3 separate regions of the Homo sapiens genome follow, and regions 1 and 2 are each linked to region 3. The links come from fine-mapping of genetic effects on gene expression. A gene starts in region 3. Each other region holds a variant in brackets. All regions are shown on one strand. Distances are between the middles of the regions. Region 1 overlaps CLPTM1 (CLPTM1 regulator of GABA type A receptor forward trafficking). Region 2 overlaps NECTIN2 (nectin cell adhesion molecule 2). Region 3 holds the start of CLPTM1 (CLPTM1 regulator of GABA type A receptor forward trafficking).

The links. PIP is the estimated chance that this variant, and not a neighbour inherited with it, causes the effect.
Region 1: its variant is the best candidate, but not a certain one, in a credible set for the expression of CLPTM1 in whole blood (TOPMed, PIP 0.85).
Region 2: its variant is the best candidate, but not a certain one, in a credible set for the expression of CLPTM1 in whole blood (TOPMed, PIP 0.66).

Annotation. Positions count from the first base shown.
Region 1 is chr19:44,969,929-44,981,108 of GRCh38, reverse strand. It overlaps CLPTM1 (CLPTM1 regulator of GABA type A receptor forward trafficking), which reads right to left. Exons shown (of 14, transcript NM_001294.4): 3 at 7,899-8,022; 4 at 6,512-6,670; 5 at 3,649-3,766. Among named protein-coding and RNA genes, the nearest start is that of CLPTM1, 20 kb to the right of the region's middle. The variant C/T (reference allele first, on the strand shown) is at 4,503.
Region 2 is chr19:44,865,996-44,870,995 of GRCh38, reverse strand. The region is part of intron 2 of NECTIN2 (nectin cell adhesion molecule 2); the gene reads right to left. Among named protein-coding and RNA genes, the nearest start is that of NECTIN2, 22 kb to the right of the region's middle. The variant T/C (reference allele first, on the strand shown) is at 1,924.
Region 3 is chr19:44,950,104-44,958,403 of GRCh38, reverse strand. CLPTM1 (CLPTM1 regulator of GABA type A receptor forward trafficking) reads right to left here and starts at 3,024. Exons shown (of 14, transcript NM_001294.4): 1 at 2,937-3,024. The coding sequence starts at 3,008. RefSeq lists a silencer at 2,772-3,101.

The sequences.
Region 1 (11,180 bases), 21 kb before region 3:
AGTGCTTTGGGAGGCCAAGGCGGGTGGATCACGAGGTCAGGAGATCAAGACCATCCTGGCTAACACGGTGAAACCTGGTCTCTACTAAAAATACAAAAAAACCATTAGCCGGGCGTGGTGGCGGGCGCCTGTAGTCCCAGCTACTCAGGAGGCTGAGGCAGGAGAATGGCGTGAACCCGGGAGGCAGAGCTTGCAGTGAGCCGAGACTGCACCACTGCACTCCAGCCTGGGCAACAGAGCAAGACTTCATCTCAAAAAAAAATAATAATAAATAAATAAAATGAAATAAAATAAATAAAATAAAATAAAATTTTTTTTTGTAGAGATGAGGTCTCCCTATGTTGCCAGGGCTGGCCTCAAACTCCTGGGCTCAAGCGATCCTCTGACTTTGGCCTCCCAAAGTGCTGGGACTACAGGCATGAGCCACCGTGCCTGGCCTCTCTTTACCTTTTTACTCTTTAGTATTTTTCTATTGGAAAAATTTTAATGCCTTCTCTGGCTCACATCCTATCTCCATGGGACGGAGCTGCTCTAGAATACTGATTATTGGCCTCTTGGGGATAAAAGGGGCTTTTCTTTTCTTTTTTTTTTTTTTTTTTTGAGATGGAGTCTTGCTCTGTCGCCCAGGCTAGAGTACAGTGGCACGATCTCGGCTCACTGCAATCTCCGCCTCCGGGGTCCAAAAGATTCTCCCACCTCAGCTTCCCGAGTAACTGGGATTACAGGCATGTGCCACCATGCCCAGCTAAGTTTTGTATTTTTAGTAGAGACAGGGTTTCACCATGTTGGCCAGGCTGGTCTCGAAGTCCTGACCTCAAGTGATCTGCTTGCCTTGGCTTCCCAAAGTGCTGGGTTTCCAGGCATGAGCCACCACAACCAGCCAAAAGGGGGCTTTTCTGAACTCACACTCTCCTTCACCCTGGAGTTTGTGGGTGGCTCACTCCAAGTCCTTCTATGTCCCTGCTTTGAGGGTCCCAGCTCCAAGGCTGGGGAGGGAGGCCTGGATGATCCTAGTATGCTTTTCAGGTTCACTGTCTGCAGGTTCTATTTTACAGACCAGACTGACTGTGAATAAACCTCACCACACAGTGACATGGATCACACTCACCAAAGACAAAACTGCAGAAAATACTGGCATCGATTTGGGTCAACGGGATGATTAGGTGATCGTCAAACGGGGTACAAGAATAGGGTGAAGAGCCACCCACCTGGGTCACCTTCAGAGCGACCTCTGAAACATCGGGCATTTTAGCCCAGACCCCTGACGTATCCCCCTGCAGGGAAACATCTGTGAGACCAACCCTGTAGGTCACACCCCCTCAAGCCACTTCTGCCTGGTTCTCCAAAGATCTCACCACATGGACGTCAGCCGGGTGGGACATACCAACGCAGCACATTCTTCAGACACACTCACTCAGAAAGGGGCTCAAGTAACTCCAGAAGACCTTTCCAAGTCATTTCTAGGGACCCACATAGAGTCAACTTTTCATTTCATCCAGTATAGGTGATAAAAAAAAATTACCATCCTTTAGGATATTTTTGTACTAAAAGAAGTAGGTAAGACCTAACTCATACAAATAGAATTCTGTCTGTTGCTGCGCCACCCAAAACCAGCCAGATGGATCTTAACCAAATCCACAGGGAATGTCTGGAATAGTCCTCAATAAAGTGAAAGCTAGGTGGAGTACACAGAACTCCCGTTAGAAGAATGGGGGGCTTTCTGAGGAAGCCATTCTCCAGCTCCGCTCAAACAGGTACAGCAAGAGATTTCTACGGCTGCCCATCAGGAGACAGAGGACTCAGGGAAAAAGCTCACAGAGAACCAAGCAAGGCTGGGTGTGGCAGCTCACACCTGTAATCCCAGCACTTTGGGAGGCCGAGGCAGACGATCACTTGAGGTCAGGAGTTTGAGACCAGCCTGGCCAACATGGCGAAACCCCGTCTCTACTAAAAATACAAAAACTAGCCGGGCGTAGTGGCGTGTGCCTGTAGTCCCAGCTATTTTGGAGGCTAAGGTGGGAGAATCGCTTGAACTTGGGAGGTGGAAATTGTGGTGAGCTGAGATAGTCCACTGCACTCCAGCCTGGGCGACATAGTGAGACCCTGTCTCAAAAAAAAAAAAAAAAAGAGCCAGGCAAGCAGAAAGATGACAACAATTATTAACTTCTCGAAAACAAGAGGACGGACAATGCTATGGTTTGAATGTTTGTCCTGGCCAAAACTCATGCTGATTCTCCCACCTCAGCCTCCCAAGTAGCTGGGACTACTGATGTACTCTAGTACTCCCCACTCCCAGTGAAACTTAATCCCCAATGTGCCAGTACTGAGAGATGAGGCTTTTAAGAGGTGACTGGGTCATGAGGACCCTCCCCTCAGGAACTGATTAACCCATTCATGGATTAGTGGTTTAATGGATTAATGAGTTATCATGGGAGTAGAAGTGGTAGTCTTATTTTTTATTACTATTGTTTTTTCAGAGACGTGGACTTGCTCTGTCGCCCAGGCTGGAAAGCTGTAGTGCAATCACAGCTCACTGCATCCTTGACCTCCCAGGTTCAAGCGATCCTCCCACCTCAGCCTCCCATGTAGCTGGAACCACAGGTGCTCACCACCATACCTGGCTATTAATTTTTGTAGCAACGAAGTCTCATTATGTTGCCCACACTGTTCTTTGAATTTTATCTATTTTTTTTTTTTTTGAGACGGAGACGGAGTCTTGCTGTGTCACCAGGCTGGAGTGCAATGGCGTGATCTCAGCTCAATGCAACCTCCGCCTCCTGGATTCAAGCGATTCTCCTGCCTCAGCCTCCCAAGTAGCTGGGACTACAGGAGCATGCTACTACACCCAGCTAATTTTTGTATTTTTAGTAGAGACGGGGTTTCACCGTGTTGGCCAGGATGGTCTCTATCTCTTGACCTTGTGATTCACCCGCCTCGGCCTCCCAAAGTCCTGGGATTACAGGCGTGAGCCACTGTGCCCGGCCTCTATCTATCTTTTTGAGACAGGTTCTCGGTCTGTCACCCAGGCTGGAGTGCAGTGGTGTGATTCTGGCTCACTGCAACCTCCACCTCCTGGGCTCAAGCGATCCTCCCACCTCAGCCTCCTGAGCAGCTGGGACTACAGGCACACGCCCAGCTAGTTTTTGTGTCTTTTTTGGTAGAGACAGGGTTTTGTCATGTTTCCCAGGCTGGTCTCAAACTCCTGGGCTCAAGCAATCTGCCCACCTTGTCTCCCAAAGTGCTAGGATTACAGGCATGAACCACTGCACCCAGCCCACAAATTATTTTTGAGTGTCTACTTCTATCAGGCCCCTACTGTGCAAAAGTCAACCCTGGCCCTTCCCCCTTGGTGAAGGACGTCTCCTCCTCTCCAAGAGTCCCTGTCTCCAGCTGCTTTTTCTGGCCAATTTCTCTCTGGTCCCTGAGCCTCCGTGGGTCTCCCTTCCTCCGTGGGTATCCCTGCTTAGTGTCCACAGGGCTCTTTCAGGCTGGGTGGGGCTTGAGCCTGCCCTGCCAATCCCACCCTCTTTGAGCACAGGCTTCCTGCCTGCCCTCCTGGACTTGGGATTTGTCCGCCACATTAGCCTGGGGGCTCCCAGGATGCTGGCCTCCTGGACAGTGGGTCCTGGCTGCAGGGGAGCGACTTACTCCGGGACATGTGGACTGTGGCAAGCCGGCGGTACAGGGCCTTCTGCCGGGGGTCTGGGTGGAAGCCACTCTTGGTGAAGTAAACGTGGATGTAGATGGAGCCGTTCTGCTGGACGCTCTGCAAAAGACGGAAGGTCAGGTGGGCAGGCTGGGCAACTGGGGTGAGGGAAACGTTAAAGCCCTGCCTGGCACCCATCTGCAGCAGTTTCCTCCCCCTCAACTCTCTGGCCATTTACTGAGTACTCAGGGTGGGGCATGTAGCTGGGTGGCAGAGAGGTAAATGCTGGAGTCAGACAGACTCAGACGCCCGCTCTACCTGCCATGGCCGTGTGAGCTCAGCTTCTCTCTGAGCCTCAGGGCCCCACCTAGAGGATGCGAAGTTCCCACAGCACTGACCCGAGGGCACCACTGCAGGGACTACCTGGAGCACTGGCACACAGCTCAGTCAACGAGCTCTCGTTAAGCTCACTCAACAGGAAGAAGCAGCTGACCGACATGGAGCTCCTACTATGGGCCAGACCCTGCCCTGGGCACTTCAGACAACAGCTTCCTAATCTAACGAGTTAACACACATATAACATGTCAACCTTATGCAATGGGTCATGTTACCACCCCATTTTGCAGATGAGGCAAACGGGGCTCATGCCAAGGGGTCACATAGTGTGTGGCAAGTACGCAGATGGAAACCCAGTCTGTGGGCTCCTGGGTGCTACTCCCTGCTACCTCCAGCTGGCCCCTCTCTGCCCAAGTCTTCCTCATTATCTCATCAAGTCTCCTTGCCTCCCAGGGAAGGGGGACTATTCTCACTTGATCCAGATGAGGAAACTGAGGCTTCAAGAAGGGAGGCAAGTTGT[C/T]CAGGGGCACTGGGTGGAGACAAAGGCGAGCACTGAACCTCTCTGATCCTTGTGCAGAGCTCGAATTCAGTTGGCCACATTGTGTTCTCCTCACTCTCCCTATCTTTTTTAGAGATGGGGTCTTCCTGTGTTGCCCAGGCTGGAGTGCACTGGCTATTTGCAGTTGCGATCATGGCACACTACAGTCTTAAACTCCTGGGCTCTGGCCATTCTCCCACCTCAGCCTCCTGAGTAGCTGTGCCTACAGGCACATGCCACTGTGCCCAGCTCTCCTGCCTTTTAAGTCCACTTGGACCCCACCCTGAAGCTTCGACTTAGATCCAAGCCCTTGGAAGCAGATCCCCCTGCTGGGCCTGCCAGGCCCTGGTCCTTCCTTGGATCTCGTGGCAAGGCCTGGGGGCTGGGCTTGAGGTCTCTGTGGGAGTCACCTCTCAGTGCAGGTCAGAAAGTCCAGCCAGGTGGGGTGGTTCATGCCTGTAATTCCAGCACTTTGAGAGGCTGAGGTGAGAGGATCGCTTGAGCAGAGGAGTTTGAGACCAGCCTGGGAAACATGTTGAGACCCCATCTCTACAAAAAATTAGCTGGGCATGGTGGTGCATGCCTGTTGTCCCAGCTACTTGGGAGGCTGAGGTGAAAAGATTGCTTGAGCCCAGGAGGTTGAGGCTGCAGTGAGCTGTAATTGCACCACTGCACTTCAGCCTAGGCAACAGAGCAAGACCCCATCTCAAAAAGAAAAGAATGATGGCTGGACGCGGTGTCTCACGCCTGTAATCCCAGCACTTTGGGAGACCAAGGTAGGTGGATCACTTGAGGTCAGGAGTTCAAGGCCAACCTGGCCAACATAGTGAAACCTTGTCTCTACTAAAAAATAAAAAAATTAGCTGGGTGTGATCATGTGTGCCTTAGTCCCAGCTACTCAGGAGGCTGGCACATGAGAATCGCTTGAACCTGGGAGGTGAAGTTGCAGTGAGCCAAGGTTGCGCCACTGCCCTCCAGACTGGGTGACAGAGCGAGACGCTGTCTCAAAAAAAAACAAAAAACAAAAAAAAAAACCAGAATGACTGTGTCCACATTCTGCTTCTAGCTACCCAGACAGAAATAGAACAGAAATGTGCCCTCCACCCCAAAGCTGAGAAGGCCTGCTGGGGAGAAAGGAATGAGGGCAGCTGTCTTGGACTCAGCCGAAGAAGGCCCCAAAGAGAGATGTCCCTTTTACTTGTTCAATACTTGCTGATTCTGCACCCAGCCCCACGTTGGGCAGTGCTGGGGACATGGAAGTGATCTAGGCAGCCCCAGCCTTATTATCACAAGGCTCACAGTCCCATACAGGAGTCCCAATGAGGCCCCAGAATGGGCTGGGATGGGGAAGCCCAGCAGGTGTGAGAACCCAGAGAGGGTGCTTAACCAAGCCTGAGTGCTCTGTGAGTCAGGGAGGGCTTCCTGGAGGAGGTTGGATTTGAGCCTAGGGCTGCGAGAGTCCACAGCCGTAGAGCCTGAGTCTGAATCTCTCATGCGATGTGGCCTTGGGTAAATCACTTTCCTTCTCTCTCAGTTTCCTCACATGTTAAATGAGAATAATAACAGTTCCTGCTTCACAGGGTTGCCGGGAAATTTCCATGAGTCAGCCTAGCTTAGTACCCTGCACTTAGCTCAATCAACATTAACTAATATTATTTTGAAACGGGGCTGCCTGATAAACTGGTGATAGGCAAACATCCCCAAGGACAATTACTAATCTTTCACCAGTTTAAAGTGGAGGACTGCACAACCTTAGAGGTAGCTGGGAGGGTCCCAGGCCAATTCCACCCCTATCTACCTTTTTCAGGTAGGGGAAAGTGAAGCCCAGAGATCTCAGGGACTGGCTTGTGGTCACAGACCATGTGAGCCCAGGGAAGGGCCAAGCCTGGAGCCCAAACTCCACATGCTCTCAGCAAGGAGCGGACTGGAGGAAAAGGTCCTTCAGTGCCAGTCAAGCAGCCATGGGGCCAGAAACCGAGAGCTGCCCCCACCTGTGGGATATCGAGCTCAGCAAAGTGCTCGTAGCAGCCGTCTGAGTTCTCGCCGCTAGTCCAGTCGCCATACACAAGATCGTGCTGTTCCCAGAAGAGTGCCGACGTGGCGTTGAAGTCTGTAAAGTGCTCGTGCTCTGAGATGTACACATGCAGGTTCTGTTGGGACAGGAAGGGAACAGAGCTCAGGCCTGCTCTTCAGAGCCTCTGCAGGCTGGCTAAAGAGCTATGGCAGCGGTCAGCACACTCAGGGGAACAGTAATTATGGAGGACAGGGGAGAGGAGAGAGGAAGAGCAGCAGAGAGGACATATTTTCTCTTTTCTCATACCACCATGTTTGTCCTGGTCTGAGCCTGTGAAGTCAACGAACAAAGAACACTTGGAGACTGGCCAGCCTGCCAATTAGAATTTAGGGGTAGGAAGGGGCAGGAGCTCCCTGAATGATCTCCTGCCCTCATGGCTGCTGGGCCTTCCTGGTCAGAGCTCTGCAGGCTTATGGACGAAGCAGTCCAGAGCTACAAAAGCACTGTGAGCCACCGGGCACGGTGGCTCATGCCTGTGATCCCAGCACGTTGGGAGGCCAAGGCGGGTAGACCACTTGAGGTCAGGAGTTCGAGACCAGCGTACCAAAAAGGTAAAACCCCATCTCTACTAAAAATACAAAAAATTAGCTGGACGTGGTGGCACATGCCTGTAATCCCAGCTAGTCGTGAGGCTGAGGCAGGAGGATCACTGGAGCCCGGGAGGCAGAGGTTGCAGTGAGCTAAGATTATGCCACTGCACTCTAGCCTGGGCGACAGAGTGAGACTCCATCTCAAAAAAAAAAAAAAAAAAAACCCACTGTGACCCAACAAGAACTTCCTCCTTTCTCAAGCCCCAATGGCCATGTTTGCTCAGAAAAGCCTAGACTGACAGATCTAAATGCTTTTGCTCTGGAGGCTCCTGAAGCCCTGCCCTGCCTGTGCCCAAGCCCACTGTGGAAGTGCAGGTCTCCTCTCCTTCCGGGCCCACCTCCTGTCAGCCTCTGCTGGCTCCCTGCCCTCCCCACCTCTCACACTCTCTCCCTTGCACATCTCCCTCTGCAACCCTGAAAGGCTGAACATACTTTTGAAATATAACATCCAAAGACCCTGATTTAACCTATTTTAACCAAATGAATTTGCTTTTTCTTTTGGGTGACACAGGTTTTATGTGCTGGGGATGGACCCAGGTGACAGAGGTCTCACGTGTTGGGGATGGGCCCAGAGTTCCTCAACCCTGGACCTGTTTTCCTAGACCTGCCAGTGAGCAAGGACCTGGTCTGTCCCGACTGCTGACATCACTCCTCCACATTCCACCCCTCCACACCCCATCACCTCCCAAGTCTGCCCTACCACCCGGCAGTTACCATTAAAGTGTCTTTGGGGAACAGGTTGCGGCTGGCGACGCGTGGAGCTCCTCCGGGGCCCGCCTGGTCCTGAGGGGCCGGCCCTCGGCGGAACCAACTGCTGATGGCCCAGATGATGAAGATCCTGAGGAGAGAAGCAGCAAGGTGGTGAGTCCCCAAGCCTTGGCTCTCCGCCATAGACCCGCCTGACTTCCTTCTGACTTAGCACATGCTGGCGCCTGACCTGGGGCTAGTGACCAAGTCAGGGAGGCCCTGAGAAGGTAGTCACAGGGCTGGCAAGGAGATAAGATGTCCCTAAAGACCACATCTGGGGAGGGAGCCCAGATGCCACCGTTTGCCAGTGTGTGGGGGTAGCTGGCACTGCCCTGGTCTGCATGCAGACCCTTGACTCTAAATCCTGCAGGAGCTCCTGGTGACCACAGGGCTGCAGGGGCTGACTCTTGACTCAGACTGGGAAACCTGCCATCCAGCCCCCTGGGATCCCCCGAGAGGAGACTAAGAATCTGGAACCCCTTCAGTGTGCAGATGGATGAATTAAAAGAAAAAAGAAATAAAGAAAAAATAATAAACATAAAATTTTTAAAAGAAAGAATCTGGAATCCTAGCGCTTCAAAAGCACAGAACCGGGGATGGTTAATGGCTACAAAAAATAGAATGAACGAGGACGGGCGCGGCGGCTCATGCCTGTAATCCCAGCACTTTGGGAGGCCAAGGCGGGCGGATCACGAGGTCAGGAGATTGAGACCATCCTGGCTAACATGGTGAAACCCTGTCTCTACTAAAAAATACAAAAAAATTAGCTGGGCATGGTGGCGGGCGCCTGTAGTCCCAGCTACTCCGGAGGCTGAGGCAGGAGAATGGTGTGAACCCAGGAGGCAGAGGTTGCAGTGAGCCAAGATCGCGCCACTGCACTCCAGCCTGGGCAACAGAGCGAGACTCCATCTCAAAAAAAAAAAGAATGAATGAGATCTAGTATTTGGTAGCAAAACACGGCAACTCTAGTCAATAGTAATTTAATTACACATTTTAAAATAACTTAAGAAGTATAGAGGCCAGGCACAGTGGCTCATGCCTGTAACTTTGGGAGGCTGAAGTGGGCAAATCACGAGGTCAAGAAATCGAGATCATCGTGGCCAACATGGTGAAACCCTGTCTCTACTAAAAATACAAAAATTAACTGGGCCTGGTGGTGCGTGCCTCTAGTCCCATCTACTTGGGAGGCTGAGGCAGGAGAATCACTTGAACCCGGGAGGCGTAGGTTGCAGTGAGCCGAGATTGCGCCACTGCCCTCCAGCCTTGCAACAGAGTGAGACTCCATCTCAAAAAAAAAAAAAAAAAAAAAAGTATAATTGGGTCAGGTGTAGCAGCTCATGCTTGTAATCCCAGCACTTTGGGAAGCTGAGGCAGGCGGATTGCTTGAGCTCAAAAGTTTGAGACCAGCCTGGGCAACATGATGAAATCCCGTCTCTACAAAAAATATAAAAATTAGCTGGGCATGGTGGCCCATGCCTGTAGTCCCAGCTACTTGGGGGACTGAGGTGAGAGAGTCACTTGAGCCCTGACGGTCAAGGCTGCAGTGAGACGTGATTGCGCCACTGCACTCCAGCCTGGGAGATAGAGAGCTTGTCCCAAAAAAATTAATCAATTAATTAATTAAATTTTTTAAAAAAGAAAAGGAAAAGAACCGAAGGCACAGAAGCTTAGAAAGAGCAACATTTCTGAACTTTTGGAGAATTTTTGGAGAAGCAGATAGTAAGTGATACGTTAGTTCCAATTTTAGTAACAGTGGGCTTAATTATTCAGACCAACCCTCTCACTGGAAAAAATTGGAAAAGCTTGATAAAATTAATACACTAAGAAAATATCAATATATTTTATATTTGTAATTATACATATTGATAGAATGAGAATATATGCTGCTCACGTATTCTCGTATTTGTTCTCATGCATGTAATTTTTATCAAGTTTACATATGAATATATATAAATAGACAGCTCTGAAGAATGGACACGACTGTAGGTTACCAAACCTTCAGGCAAAAACTGAAGGGAAAGTGGGAATCCTAAAGTAGTAAAGGATCGGCCGGGCGCGGTGGCTCAAGCCTGTAATCCCAGCACTTTGGGAGGCCGAGGTGGGTGGATCACCTGAGGTCAGGAGTTCAAGACCAGCCTGGCCAACATGGTGAAACCCCATCTCTACTAAAAATACAAAAATTAGCCAGGAGTGGTGGTGCATGCCTGTAATCCCAGCTATTCGGGAAGCTGGGGCAGGAGAATCGCTTGAACCCAGGAGAAGGAGGTTGCAGTGAACCGAGATCGTGCCATGGCACTCCAGCCTGGGCAACAAGAGCAAAAAGTCCATCTCAAGGAAAAAAAAAAAAAGAAGTAAAGGATCTTGGATTTGCAGGTCTAGGGGAAAAAAAAAAAAAGAATAAGTAAAGGAGCCCTATAAGCTTCTTCATGTGTCCGAGGACATCTGCTAGGTGTTTTGGTGGGTGACAAAAATGCTGGCCTAGGCTGGGCGCGGTGGCTCACACCTGTAACCCCAGCACGCTGGGAGGCTGAGGTAGGTGGATTGCTTGAGCCCAGGAGTTTGAGACCAGCCTGGGCAACACACAGTTTCTACAAAAAATACAAAAATTAGCCAGGCATGGCAGCACGCACCATGCCTATATTCCCAGCTACTCAGGAGGCTGAGGTGGGAGAATCACCTGAGCCCAGGAGGTCGAGGCTGCAGTGAACCACGATCATGCCACTGCACTCCAGCCTGGGCAACAGAGTGAGACCCTGTCTCAAAAAAAAAAAAAAAAATGCTAGCCCAGGGCACATACAACATATGAGGTAACCAGAGACCTACCCTATAGGAAACTAAGACCCCACAAGGTGCAAGCCTCCACCCCTGAGAAGGAAGGAACCAGGTGGCCTACCCATTCCCAGGAGTTGCACAACAGGTATGCAGGGCGAAGTATGCAAGGCCACTCGTGGGATAAGGAGTCACGAAGGGCAGCTCAAGCCCTGAACCTGGTGCAAGGAAACCTAGGACTTGGTAATGCCCCCAGGCAGAAGCAAAGGCAATCCTCTCTGTAGGAAAATATGCTCATCCTAGCCCTGAAATTCCTACAAATAACTTTTCAAGTATAATGACTAGGACACAGACAGAGATAAGCCAGGCACAAAAGGAAACGACATTATGAGCGAGAATCAGCAGCAACAACAGATACCAAAACCAAAACGAGGCTGGGCGTGGTGGCTTACACCTATAATCCCAGCACTTTGGGAAGCC
Region 2 (5,000 bases), 86 kb after region 3:
CACTTTGGGAGGCCCAGGTGGGCAGATCACCTGAGGTCAGGAGTTCTAGACTAGCGTGGCCAACGTGGTGAAACCCCATCTCTACTAAAAATGCAAAAATTAGCTGGGCGTGGTGGCAGGTGCCTGTAATCCCAGGTACTCGGGAGGCTGAGGTAAGAGAATTGCTTGAACCTGGGAGGCAGAGGTTGTAGTGAGCCGAGATCGTGCCACTGCACTCCAGCCTGGGTGACAGTGAGACTCTGTCTCCAAAAGAAAAAAAAAAAAAAGGAAAAAAAAAAAGCAAATCAAGGCCGAGCGAGTAACTGAGTACTGTGGTTCAAAGGTCCAGCTGGAAAGGCCCCCTGTTCCTTTTCCTGTAATCACCATTAGATGATTGAATGACTGGAAGTGTGATAAAGGCAGAAAATCTCAAAGCCGTTTCTTTTTTTTATACCCTTTCCACCTCATTCTCTTGGAAAACATGGAAAAAAATCACAAAAACAAAACTCCAGGAAGAATAGCAGCTCATGCTTATGATGTGTGTCCCCCACCCAGACTCACATCTTCTGTTGCTTTCTGGACCTGGGTATCCACCTCTGAACTTCTCAACACGGTCTGACTCTCCTCTTCTTCCCAGCTCTCCCTTCCCACCGCCTTCTCCCCTGACCATCGTGGAGCATCCAACAAGCCTCCCCACATCCTCCTGGCCGCCCTCCAAGCTGTTAGAATAGTGACTCAGGGCCCGAGCCCACCACTTCCCCATGGCCACCTCCCCTGGCCACTCCACATGCTCCCCATCCACGCCCTCCTCAGTCTCTGCCTCCACCCACTTTGGGGTTTTGGTTGGTGATTTTGTGCCTGGATTGCTTTGGCCTCCTTCTCCAGACCCCACTCCAAGCCCCACTTCGTCAAGGGCACTTTCCTGACCGCCGACTCTGGCCAACTATTCCTTGGTGGCTCACGCATCATGAAGACAGAGGCTTTGGCTGTTTTGTTCCTTACTTCTGCACCAGTGTGTATACGGAAGCTCTTGAGGTTATCTCTCTCTCTCTCTTTTTTTTTTATTAATTTGAGACAGAGTCTTGCTGTCACCCAGGATGCAGTGCAGTGGTGCAATCTCAGCTTACTGCAACCTGCCCTTGCTGGTTTCAGCAATTCGCCTGCCTTAGCCTCCTGAGTAGCTGGGATTACAGGTGTGCGCCACCATTCCTAGCTAATTTTTATTTGTAGTTTTGGAGACCCTCTCTCCAAGAAACAAACAAACAAACAAAAGCTCACTTGCAAGAGCTGCTTGCCTTGGCCCCTGCTTGAAGTGTATATTCAGGGCAACTTCAATCTATGCTCCCAGGTGGTCATCCTCAAGCTTTGGGCTTGATTAAACCCTACACTTAATCATATTTTCTTTTCTTTTTTTTTTTTTTTTTGAGATGGAGTCTCGCTCTGTCGCCCAGGCTGGAGTGCAGTGATGCGATCTCGGCTCACTGCAAGCTCCGCCTCCTGGGTTCATGCCATTCTCCTGCCTCAGCCTCCCAAGTAGCTGGGACTACAGGCACCCGCCACCACGCCCGGCTAATTTTTTTGTATTTTTAGTAGAGACAGGGTTTCACCGTGTTAGCCAGGATGGTCTCAATCTCCTGACCTCGTGATCCGCCTGCCTCGGCCTCCCAAAGTGCTGGGATTACAGGCGTGAGCCACTGCGCCTGGCCCTTAATCATATTTTCTGAGTCTCATTATTTATTTATTTATTTTGAGACAGAGTTTTGCTCTTGTTGCCTCTCAGCCTCCCAAAGTGCTGGGATTACAGGTGTGAGCCACCGTGCCCAGCCCTGAAGTTATCTCTGGATGAGAACAAATGATTGCACAAGAAGAGAGGCGTTTGTGAGGGTGGGGAGGAGAAGAGCTGTCCTTTGTATTATGGAAAACGGCTGTGGTTTCATGTGTTAC[T/C]GGAAAGGGAAGTGTTTACTCAAGGATAGCACAGGGTGACCTTCTCAGACGCTCTGGGCTGAGAAGGGGGAAGAAAAGGCATCCAGAGTGACGTGGCTTCTGGGAAGTTGCCTAGGGAAGGTGGGCTCCCAGGGGACTTCCAACATATTTTTTTTTTTTTCCAGACAGAGTCTCACTCTGTCGCCCAGGCTGGAGTATAGTGGCGCGATCTCGGCTCACTGCAAGCTCCGCCTCCCGGGTTCAAGCCATTCTCCTGCCTCAATCTCCCGAGTAGCTGGGACTAAGGCACCCGCCACCACGCCTGGCTAATTTCTTGTATTTTTAGTAGAGATGGGGTTTCACCGTGTTAGCCAGGATGGTCTCGATTTCCTGACCTCGTGATCCGCCCGCCTCGGCCTCCCAAAGTGCTGGGATTACAGGAGTGAGCCACCACGCCCAGCCTCAAGATTTAAAGAAAGAGCATTCGTAGCTGGATGTGGTGACTCATGCCTGTAATCCCAGCTATGCAGGAGGCGGAGGTAGGAGGATCCCCTGAGCCCAGGAGTTCGAGTCTAGCCTGGACAATGTAGTGAGACTTTGTCTCAAAAAAAGAAAAAAAAAAAAAAAGAAAAAGGAAAAGAAAAAAAAGCATCCTTCAAAAAAAATCTTCCCTGCCTTCTCTATTTTTGCCAAGTATCAGTCACCTTCCCGCTGGGAGTCCTATTTTTTTTTTTTTTTTTTTGAGACAGGGTCTCGTGCTGGAGTGCAGTGGTGCAATCTTGGCTCACTTGCAATCTCTGCTTCCCAGGCCCAAGCGATCCTCCCACCTCAGCCTCTTGGGTAGCTGGGACTACAGGTGTGTGCTACCATGCCCAGCTAATTTTTTTTTTTCTTGTAGAGATGGGGCCTCACCATGTTGCCCAGAGTGGTCTGAAACTCCTGACCTCAAAGCGATCTGCCCACCTTGGCCTCCTAAAGTGCTGGGATTACAGGCGTGAGCCACCGCACCAGGCCTGGGACTCCTCTCTGATCCTGCTTCCCCCTCAATCCATGGGCAAGCCCAGCACCTACTATCTTCTAAAAACACCACTATATGCCGCCCGCTTCCCTCTGCCCCCCACTGCCTCATCCGTCTTCCCAGCAATGCCTCTTCTCCCCTCTCGTCCCAGCTCCCTTCTACCTCCGTCCACTCCTCCAATCACTCCTCATACTGCTGCCGGTCATTTTTTGCAACCTCAAACGTTTGTCCAGATCTCTCCTGTGGCTTGACACCTCCCATGGCTCTTAACCATGCTGAGGGCATAGTCCAGCCTCCTCGCCTCCACCTGTGAAGCCCGTGTAATGTGGCCCCGCTGAGGGTCACCCAAGCCCTTGCCTATCCTCACCAGCCCCCTTTCCATTCCTGGAACGCGCCCAGCTCCCATCTCATGCCCACCTCCCAGGTTTCTGTGCCCGTGCCCCTCTGCTATGCCCAAAGGTAGCTCCTTCTCAGACTCCAGGACTTGACTAAGACGCCTTCCCTGCACATCCTATCTCAATGAGGCCACTATGTCCCCTACTTCTAAGCCGTTTTACTTCCTGCCCGGACTGGACTTGTTTTAAGACAGGGTCTCGCTCTCTTGTCCAGGATGGAGTGCAGTAGCACAATCACAGCTCACTGCAGCCTCAACCTCCTGGGCTCAGGTGATCCTCCCACCTCAGTCTCTCGAGTAGCTGAAATTACAGGTAAGTCACTGAGCCTGGTTAATTAAAACAATTTTTTTTTCTTTCCTGGCCAGGCTCAGTGGCTCATGCCTATAATCCCAGCACTTTGAGAGGCCCAGGTGGACGGATCACCTGAGGTCGGGAGTTCAAGACCAGCCTGGCCAACATGGTGCAACCCCGTCTCTACTAAAAATACAAAAAAATTTAGCTAGGTGTGGTGGTGGGAGCCTGTAATCCCAGCTACTTGGGAGGCTGAGGCAGGAGAATTGGTTGAACCTGGGAGGCGGAGGTTGCAGTGAGCCGAGATCGCGCCACTCCACTACAGCCTGGGTAACAAGAGCAAAACTCTGTCTCAAAAAAAAAAAAAATTTTTTTTGTCATTGAGACAAGAGTCTTACTATGTTGCCTAGGATGGTCTCAAATTCCTAGGCTCAAGGGATCCTCCCACCTCGGCCTCCCTGAGTGCTGGGGTTATGGGCGTGAGCCACAGCACCCGGCCCCACCCGGACTTTGTAGTTGCCTTACCCTGTGGTTTCTCAGCTCCCATTCTTTCCCCTCCCAACACAGCCAGGAGGAGCTGGTGAGAACCCAAGCCAGATCAAACCTGTCTGCTGCTAAGAACCTACTACAGCTCTTATCCTCCCTGGGCAAAAGCCAAAGGCTTCTTATAGTCCACAAGGCTTTTGCCAATCTGTCCCCATCCTCTCCTTGACTTTATTGCTTCCTACTTTCCCCCACTCATATGTCTCCAGCCACCCTGACTTCCTTCCTGGCCCTCAAATACTCCAGGTATTCCTGTCTCAGGGCCTTTGTACTTGCCATTCCGTCTGCCTGGAACGCTCTTCCCTTAGATACCCAGAGGGCTCCTCCTCTCCTAGTTTCTGCCTAAATATCCCCAGACCTCCTTAGCTAGAATTGCAACTTGGCCCTCTCCAACTTCCATGGCCCCTTTAACTGCCTGACTTACTCTTTTATTTATTTATTAGAGATAGGGCCTCACTCTGTCACCCAGGCTAGAGTGTAGTGGCATGATCACAGCTCACCGCAGCCTCAAATTCCTGGTCTCAAGCGATCCTCCCACCTCAGCCTCCCAAGTAGCTGGGACCACATCTGCGCACCACCATGGGCTCAAGCAATCTACCTGCCTCAGCCTCCCAAAGTGCTTGGATTATAGTCGTGAGCCACCACACCCAACCTCAATACTTTTTTTTTTTTTAGACCGAGTCTTGCTCTGTCACCCAGACTAGAGTGCAGTGGTGGCACAATCTCGGCTCACTGCAACCTCTGCCTCCTGGGTTCAAGCGATTCTCCTGACTCAGCCTCCTGAGTATCTGGGATTATAGGCACGGGCCACCACACCCAGCTAATTTTTTATTTTTCGTAGAGACAGGGTT
Region 3 (8,300 bases):
AAAGAAAAAAAAAAAAAGAGTCACTCTTTTCAGCTCCTATTTCCCTCAGAGTAAAGGCCAAGTCCTCCCCATGGCCTCCAAAGCTTGGCATAATCTGCATCTGTCCCCAGCCACCCCTCTCCCCTCACCCGCTCCAGCCTCCTCGCCCTTCCTTCATCACACCAGGCACCTCCCACTTTAGGGCCTTCGCACTGGCTGCTCCTTTGCCTGAAAAGCTTTTCCCTCGTGTATCTTTGGGACTCCCTCTCTCACTTCCTTCAGGTCTTTGTTCAAGCGTCACCTCCTCAGAGAGGCCTTCTAGACTACCCTATTTAATTGCAACTCTTCTACCCACCCCTCACTTCCTATCCCCATCCCAGCTTTATTTCTGTCCATGGCACGCAGAGCCATCTGAACTGCTGTTTTTCTTATTTATCTTGTTCACTGTGTGTCCCTGTCTGTGCTTCCCCTATAAATTCAGCTCCAACTAGAACATAAGTGTAAGGGCCTTCAAGAGGGCAGCACCTATTTTATTCACAGCTGTATCTCCAGCATCAGCAAAGGCCTAGCATGGAGTAGACTCAATTCGCATTCGCTGAAGGAAGGAATGGCAAAGCTGTGGGTTCTGTGTCCGAGTTCCTGGCTACAGGAGCAGGCTAGCTAAAGCAGCAGACTGTGCAGAGGGTGTGCCTGCTGTGCACTAGGCCCTGGGCATGGGAGAAGGGTGGCAGTGGCTGTGGACACATCAGTGACTAAGACACAGTTCCTGCTCTCGGATCTGCACGTCCACGCACACACACAATCCCCAGCAACATCTGCTAAAGGGTCCAAGAAGTAGCTGAGACCACCAGGGCTAGGCAAGAGCAGGAGGAAGCTAGGTTTTGCGGCATGTCTTCACTGATTACCTGGATCCACCACGGCATCAGGGAATTCCACCTCAGCCCAGCCTCTGTTTCAAGATCCGCTCATTCCACAAACACTGAGCACCTCCTCTGTGCCTGGCGCTGAGCTGAGTGGTGCTAAGGAAGCAGTGGTGATCAAGGCAGTCCTGGCTCTGCCCTCCTGGGGTTCCCAGTCCCCAGACAGTGAAACCCAGTAGGGCAGGGCTGGGACAGCGGAGCCCAGACAGTCAAAGAGGGCTTTCTGCAGGAAGGGACATCTGAAATCTGTAGGACTAATACACATCAACTAGCTAAAGAGGGGAGAGACCTGTGCATAGACTATGAGGAAAGAGACTGAGAGGCAATAAAAGAGGTTTAGAAATAAAATAGGTTCAGAGCAGCGGATCCCCTTTAGCGCAGTTGTTCTCACGCAGGGATGGCTTTGCCCCCCTGCTCTTGGAACATTTGGCAATGTCTGGAGACATATATGGTTGTCACAACTGGGGAGGGGCGTGGATCCTACTGACATCTAGTGCGTAGAGGCCACGGATGCTGCTAAACATCCTAAAATGCACAGGGCAGCCCCCCAAACAAAGCATTATCCAATTCAAAATGTTGATAGTGCCGAGCTCGAGAAATCCTAGTCTAGTCTGAAGAAAAGTGTCGGATCGTGCAAGACTGTGATTTATTAAAGAATTTGTACTTTGTCCTAAAGGCAAAGGGGTAACTCTTGATTGTTTTTAAGCAGAGTTGGTACAAGAGAAGATCAGAGTGCCATCTGGAAGCTCAGGGCAATGAGAACAACCTGGGCCCTGGTCTCTCAAGCCACCATCAACCCAATAATCAACAGAAACCCAGAGGGGAAACGACCTCCTTTCAGCAAGACTGGGAAACCCTTGAAGACAGGAACTGAGCCTTCATTCCAGCACTAACTCAACAAACATTTCCTAAGCTGTCCCTGAAGCCAGGCCCTGGCTGAGAATGCTGAAAAGATTCAGAGCAGATACAGTGGGCTCTATCACACAAATTTCATCCATGTGTCCTACCCAAGTGATACCACTTGCTCTTTCTCTGGGCTCCCCCAGTCCCTGACACAGACTTTTGTCACCAACCTAATCATTCAGGATTACAACTGTTTACATGTCAGTCTCCTCTCTTCGTCCCCTGACAGCAGGGATATGGCTGGCCCTCCTGTCCAACCTCTGCATTTAACACGGGAGAGATAAAGGCCTAAAGAGGGAAAGGAACTTGCCCAAGGTCACACAGAGAGTCAGCTTCATTCTCCCCTCTCAACCCGCACTCCTTTCCCCTGAGCTGCCTCCCACATGTCAGTGACATCCCAGTGGGTGGGTCGACAGCACCTTCATGTCTCTCCATCTATTCCCCAAATGCCTGAACGGTAGCTGCCTGAAATGGTATGCTCTGCAGTGTGTTAAGACAGCAGTGGGGCAGAAGTCATCCGCACCAGGACTAATTAACCCATAGAACTATTTTACATTAAAACCACAACCATACCAGTCCCTGTGTCAGCAGTGTCTTGTAACTTCTACATAAAGTTACAAACCTAACCAGGATGACCTTCTAGAAGCGCCTTAGTCTCACTGTTCCTTGAATTCCCGTCTGTAAAATGGGTCTGTCGGCCGTGCCCTGCTAATACTGACTTCCCCACAGCTAGAAAACTCCCAATTAATCACTGCGCACACCTCAAACACTACAACGAGACCTGAACGCCAGACCACTCTAGGAACGGCCTCAGAGCATGGAATCGCGGAGTTGAGAACCCAGCGCGCCAAGGTACAAGCCTGCGCCCCTCCGAGCCACTGTCTCCCCGGATCGAGCAATGAGCCTGGTGGCCGCCCGGCTCGAGCGTGCAGGGGAACCGACCCGCAACAGGGCCCTGTTCCCGGCACCGTCCGGCCTCCCGGGCGGTCCGGCCCTGCCTGGGCCGGGTATTCAAGGTCCCTCTGGCCAAGGAGCCCCCAGTGCACGGGATTCCGTGACAAGAGGTAGGACACGCCCCGTGGGAGGCCCCCCGGCTGGGGAAGAACCCCCTCAGTCCCCTCTCGGCCTCCGTACCTGACCGGAGCTGCCTCCCCCGGCCGCCACCACGGCGCTGCGGGCCCCGTCCGCCTCCTGCGCCGCCGCCATCTTCCCGCTCCGGGTCCCCGCCCCCGCCGCCAGCCCCGCCCCGTCCCCGACTTCGCAGCGCAATCGCGCGAGATTTCACGCTTTCCTAGCCCCGCCGGGCCACCCTATCCGGCAAGAGTGCCGCAGCCACGCCTCTCAGGAAGGCCACTTCCGGCTATGGAAGGACCAACCTGGCCACCGTACTCGTCTTTCTCCCAGCCCGTTTGTTTCCACCTAATAAAAACACTGTATGCTCCGAACTCCAGGACTTTCTCGGCCAGCATGTGCCTCCCGCAAGTTCTGTCCCTTCCGTCCCTTCACATTAACCCGCCTTTTCGGTTATATGAGCCTTTCGGGACATCCTGTCCGCTTCTCCCTGCCGATTCTTCGCGTCCTTTTCGTTCCATGTTTCTTGAGCTTTACCGGCCACTGTACGGCTTCGAACCACGCCCCTCTTTCGTCAGAGGAACCTTTCTGGCCACCGTATTCTGATTCGAAGAACTAGCCTTTTGCCCAGCACCCTTGTCTTCTGACCCCTCTTCCTAAGACAACTCTTTCGTTCAAGTCTCCTGAGCTCATATCCTTTCTGTGTTTTTAGAGTTCCAATTCCAGGGGTCTTACGGCCAACAAACCTCCGATGAGACCCTATGATACACCCCCAAGCCTTCGGACTGCCCTGCCTAGCACGCATGCGCGTTCCCTCAGTGGTCCAAACCTCGCATCCGTGGGCTAGGCTTCACGGGCTCTGAGAATTCCACAATTTTTCATTAGCTGTGTGTCTTCGTACAGCTCTAAACCCGGCCATCTGCTGAGAGACCCTTAGTTTGGAGAGGGTGTTACGGAGGCCCAGAGAGGACAAGACTCTCAGAGGCTGTTAACTGTTCACCCGTGAAATTGGGTGGATGTCTGGCCAGGGTTCTAACCCTTGTGGTGCTACTGACTGGATAAGATATCCTGGACAAGTGACGTCTCTCTCTCTCTTTTTTTTTCTTTTTTAGACGGAGCCTCACTCTCCCCCAGGCTGGAGTGCAATGGCGCGATCTCGGCTCACTGCAACCTCGGCTCACTGCATCCTCGGCCTCCCGAGTAGCTGGGATTACAGGAGCACGCCACCACTCCTGGCTAATTTTTTTTTTTTTTTTGAGACGGAGTCTCGCTCTGTCACCCAGGCTGGAGTGCAGTGGCGCGATCTCGGCTCACTGCAACCTCTGCCTCCCGGATTCAAGCAATTCTCCTGCGTCAGCCTCCCATTTTTTTTTTTTTTTTGTAAGTAGAGACGGAGTTTCACCGTGTTGGCCAGGCTGGTGACAAGTGACATCTATGTTTGAGCCTCAGTTTCTCCCCTTTTATAAACCAGGGATATAATCGTACTCGTTCTTCGTCTTCCCGTTTTGCCCCGCTGTGTTATTGGGAAGACGTAGTTAGATGGCGAATGGAAAACATCAGGCCCTGGGCCTCATGCTTAAGTGGTCAATATTTGGAGCGCTGTGATTATGAACCTTATATATTACCTGGAAAAAGAGTAAGCTTTGCATTGGGATATTCTGAATATATAATTATCATTTTATTATCGGTTTCCTCCACTTTCCTCTAGGTCTCAGCCCTGTAACAGTAGCTCTCGCTCTAGGAAACTCTCTCTGAGCCCTTTTCCTATCCTCCCTTGCCCCCTCAGCTCCTCCACCCCATCCCTGCTCACTTTGTGTCATCACTGTCAGGGATGGGTGTGTCTCCCCAACTGGGCAGGCTGACCTGGGACTGTTGTGGTCACTGCTGTATCTCCAGCACTGCCCTGGGGATGATTGCCCTGGGGATGAGGCTCTCTAGGTGCAGAAGGTGAGTGACTTACCTCTCTGAGGGCTAACACAGGACAAGAAGGAACCTTAGAAAACTTCGCTCCTCAGCCAGGCGCGGTGGCTCACGCCTGTAATCCCAGCACTTTGGGAGGCCGAGGCAGGCGGATCACCTGAGGTCGGGAGTTCAAGACCAGCCTGGCCAACATTGTGAAACCCCGTCTCTACTAAAAATACAAAAATTAGCCGGGCATGGTGGCGGACGTCTGTAACTCCAGCTACTCGGGAGGCTGAGGCAGGAGAATTGCTTGAACCCGGGAGGCAGAGGTTGCAGTGAGCCAAGATCATGCCACTGAATTCCGGCCTGGGCAACAGAGCAAGACTCCACCTCCAAAAAAGAAGAAAGAAAAGAAAAAGAAAACTCAGTGCCTCATCCTCACTGTTACAGACAATAATGGTGTTAATAACGATTCTTTGAATGTGTAGGCCCAGTCTTTTAAGTCCAGGGATGAAGTGAATAGACTAAGACAGGGATTGAGGAGAGACTTTGTGGGGTCTGAAGCTTATGTGTTTTGTGGGCCTCTTTTTTTTTTTTTTTTTGAGATGGAGTCTTGCTCTGTCACCCAGGCTGGAGTGCAGTGGCATGATCTCAGCTCAATGCAAGCTCCGCCTCCTGGGTTCACACCATTCTCCTGTCTCAGCCTCCGGAGTAGCTGGGACTACAGGCGCCCACCACCACGCCCAGCTAATTTTTTGTATTTTTAGTAGAGACGGGGTTTCACCGTGTTAGCCAGGATGGTCTTGATCTCCTGACCTCGTGATCCGCCTGCCTCTGTCTCCCAAAGTGCTGGGAGTACAGGCATGAGCCACCGCGCCTGGCCTGGCCTCTTTTAAAAAGTACAAAATTGGCTGGGTGTGGTGGCTCACACTGTAATCCCAGCACTTTGGGAGGCAGAGGCTGGTGGATCACCTGAGGTCGGGAGTTCGAGACCAGCCTGACCAAAATGGAGAAACCCCATCTCTACTAAAAGTACAAAATTAGCTGGGCATGGTGGTACATGCCTGTAATCCCAGCTACTTGGGAGGCCAAGGCAGGAGAATCGCTTGAACCTGGGAAGCGGAGGTTGTGGTGAGCCGAGATCATGCCATCGCACTCCAGCCTGGGCAAGAAAAGGGAGACTCTGTCTTGAAAAAAAAAAAGTACAAAATGACTTGTACAAATTTAGGTAGAGGACCATGGAAAGCCCAGGCAAGTGAGGGGCTTTGAAACTTTCTCCAGCCTCACTGCAACCCCAACTGCGCTCTCAGCTATAAATACAAACTGCTGCAATCTGCTCTCCAAGTCTCATACACTGCAAGGGCCAATGTGTTGGAGCATGATGAGGTCTAAGCTTCTCATGAGAAGTGTGACCTTGGACAGGGCTCCTGTGGAGGCAGGTTCCCTGCAGAGCCTTCCTATGCTCTGTGGAGTGACCAAATAAATTCTGCCATTCCGTCCAGGCTTCGTGGCTCATGCCTGTAATCCTAGCACTCTGGGAGGCTGAGGCAGAAGGATCGCTTGAGCCTAGGAGTTTAAGACCAGCCTTGGTGACATAGCGAGATCCTAGCTCTACTAAAAATTAACAAAATTAGGTGGTGTGGTGGCATCCACCTGTGGTCCAGCTACTCTGAGGCTGAGGTGGGAGGGATGCCGGAGCCCAGGAGTTCGTTCGAGGTTGCAATTAGCTGTGATCACATTACTGCACTCCAGCCTGGGTGACAGAGTGAGACCCTGTCTCTAAAGAAATTAAAAATCATAATAAGTAAAAAATTCTGCCATTCCTGCTGTATGTAAGTCACAGGACAGACCCACTCTTCTCTCCACTAGGGGGCGCAAAATACTGATCAAGGGCTGTGATTTCAGGTTCTAAGGGAGAAAGGGGGCTGGGGATCCAACCTTCTAGGTCCTGAGGAGAAGGGACTGGGGGGTCCCAGACTCCTGAGTTCTAGGGGAAGAAGAATCTAGGGGCCTGGACTCTGGGGGCCCTGAGGGGAATGGGGTTCTGAGAAAGAAAGGAGGAGTCTGAGGCCAGCACCAGGATTGGTTGGAAGCCGAACTGGTCCGGGCAGTGCTTTGGCTTGGCTTGAGTCCGTGGGAACCAAGTGGACACAGCAGGGATTGTTACTCCAGGGTCTTCCCCTCCCCACCACCCCCTGCACTTGGCAGCCTCTGTTCTTCCCAGGCCCCGGGGACTCGGGGGCATTGCCCACAGTCCCTCTCCAGGGCCCCTGTTTTTTACTGGACTCAGCTGCCCAGCCTCAGGACCTGGGAAAACTGCCCCAAGGGTGTTGAAAGCCTGGCAGGAGGTTAATGCCAAGCAGATTAGGAGAAATACAAGCAGTGGATCCCCAGAGACCAATAGCCCCACCCATGGGACTTGGGGAGCAGTACCACCCTGGACTCCCTCAGGATACAGGAATCTTGGCCCCCAGCCCCCTTCATTCATGGTCCCAGCACTGGCCTCCTTCAGACCATGGAGCCTCTGCTTATTTGCACCTTCTGCCTTCTGTGCTTTTTGCTTGCAATTTTTTTTTAATAAGTTTTTCTTTTTTTTTTTTAGAGACGGAGTCTCACTCTGCTGCCCAGGCTGGAGTGCAGTGGCACTATCTCCGCCTCCAGGGTACAAGCAATTCTCCTGCCTCAGCCTCCAGGTAACTGGGATTACAGGCGCGGGCCACCCCTAGCTAATTTTTGTGTTTTTATTAGAGACAAGGTTTCACCATGTTGGCCAGGCTGGTCTTGAACTCCTGACCTCAGATGATCTGCCCACCTCAGCCAACCAAAGTGCTGGGATTACAGGCGTGAGCCACCACGCCGGCCCTAGAGGTTTGTCTTCTTGGGTCCCAGCCAAGAAGTACTGACTTGGGCACCATTCTCCCTCTGCCACGGGACCATTATACACTGATTGCAATGGCACGTTTAAAGTGTCAGCCCAGGCCTGGTGCGGTGGTTCACACCCGTAATCCCAACACTTTGGAAGGGCAAGGTGGGCAGATCGCTTGAGCCCAGGAATTGGAGACTAGCCTAGGCAACTTGACGAAACCCCGTCTCTACTAAAAATACAAAAAATTAGCCAGGTGTGGCAGTGGGCATCCCTAGTCCCAACTACTTGGGAGGCTGAGATGGGAGGATCTCTTGAGCCCAAAAGGTCAAGGCTACAGTAAGCCAAGATCTCACCACTGCACTTCAGCCTGGGCGACAGAGCAAGACCTTATCTCAAAACAAAATAAATAAAATAAAAAATGTGTCAGTCCAGCAACTGTAAGGCAGGAAAATAGGGAGGCAGGGAACATAAGGCCAATTCACTTCAGCTATAACAGGAAACATCCTCTCCGGTAGGCCATAAATGACTTTGTAACTTTTCTTCATCCTCTCCATTTACATAGGGTGTACCAGAAGTAACCAGTGGAAGGGGAATCCTCTAGGGGGAATTTAAACTCCCAAAAATTCTGTAACAGGGCTTTTGAACCCATATGCTTGGGC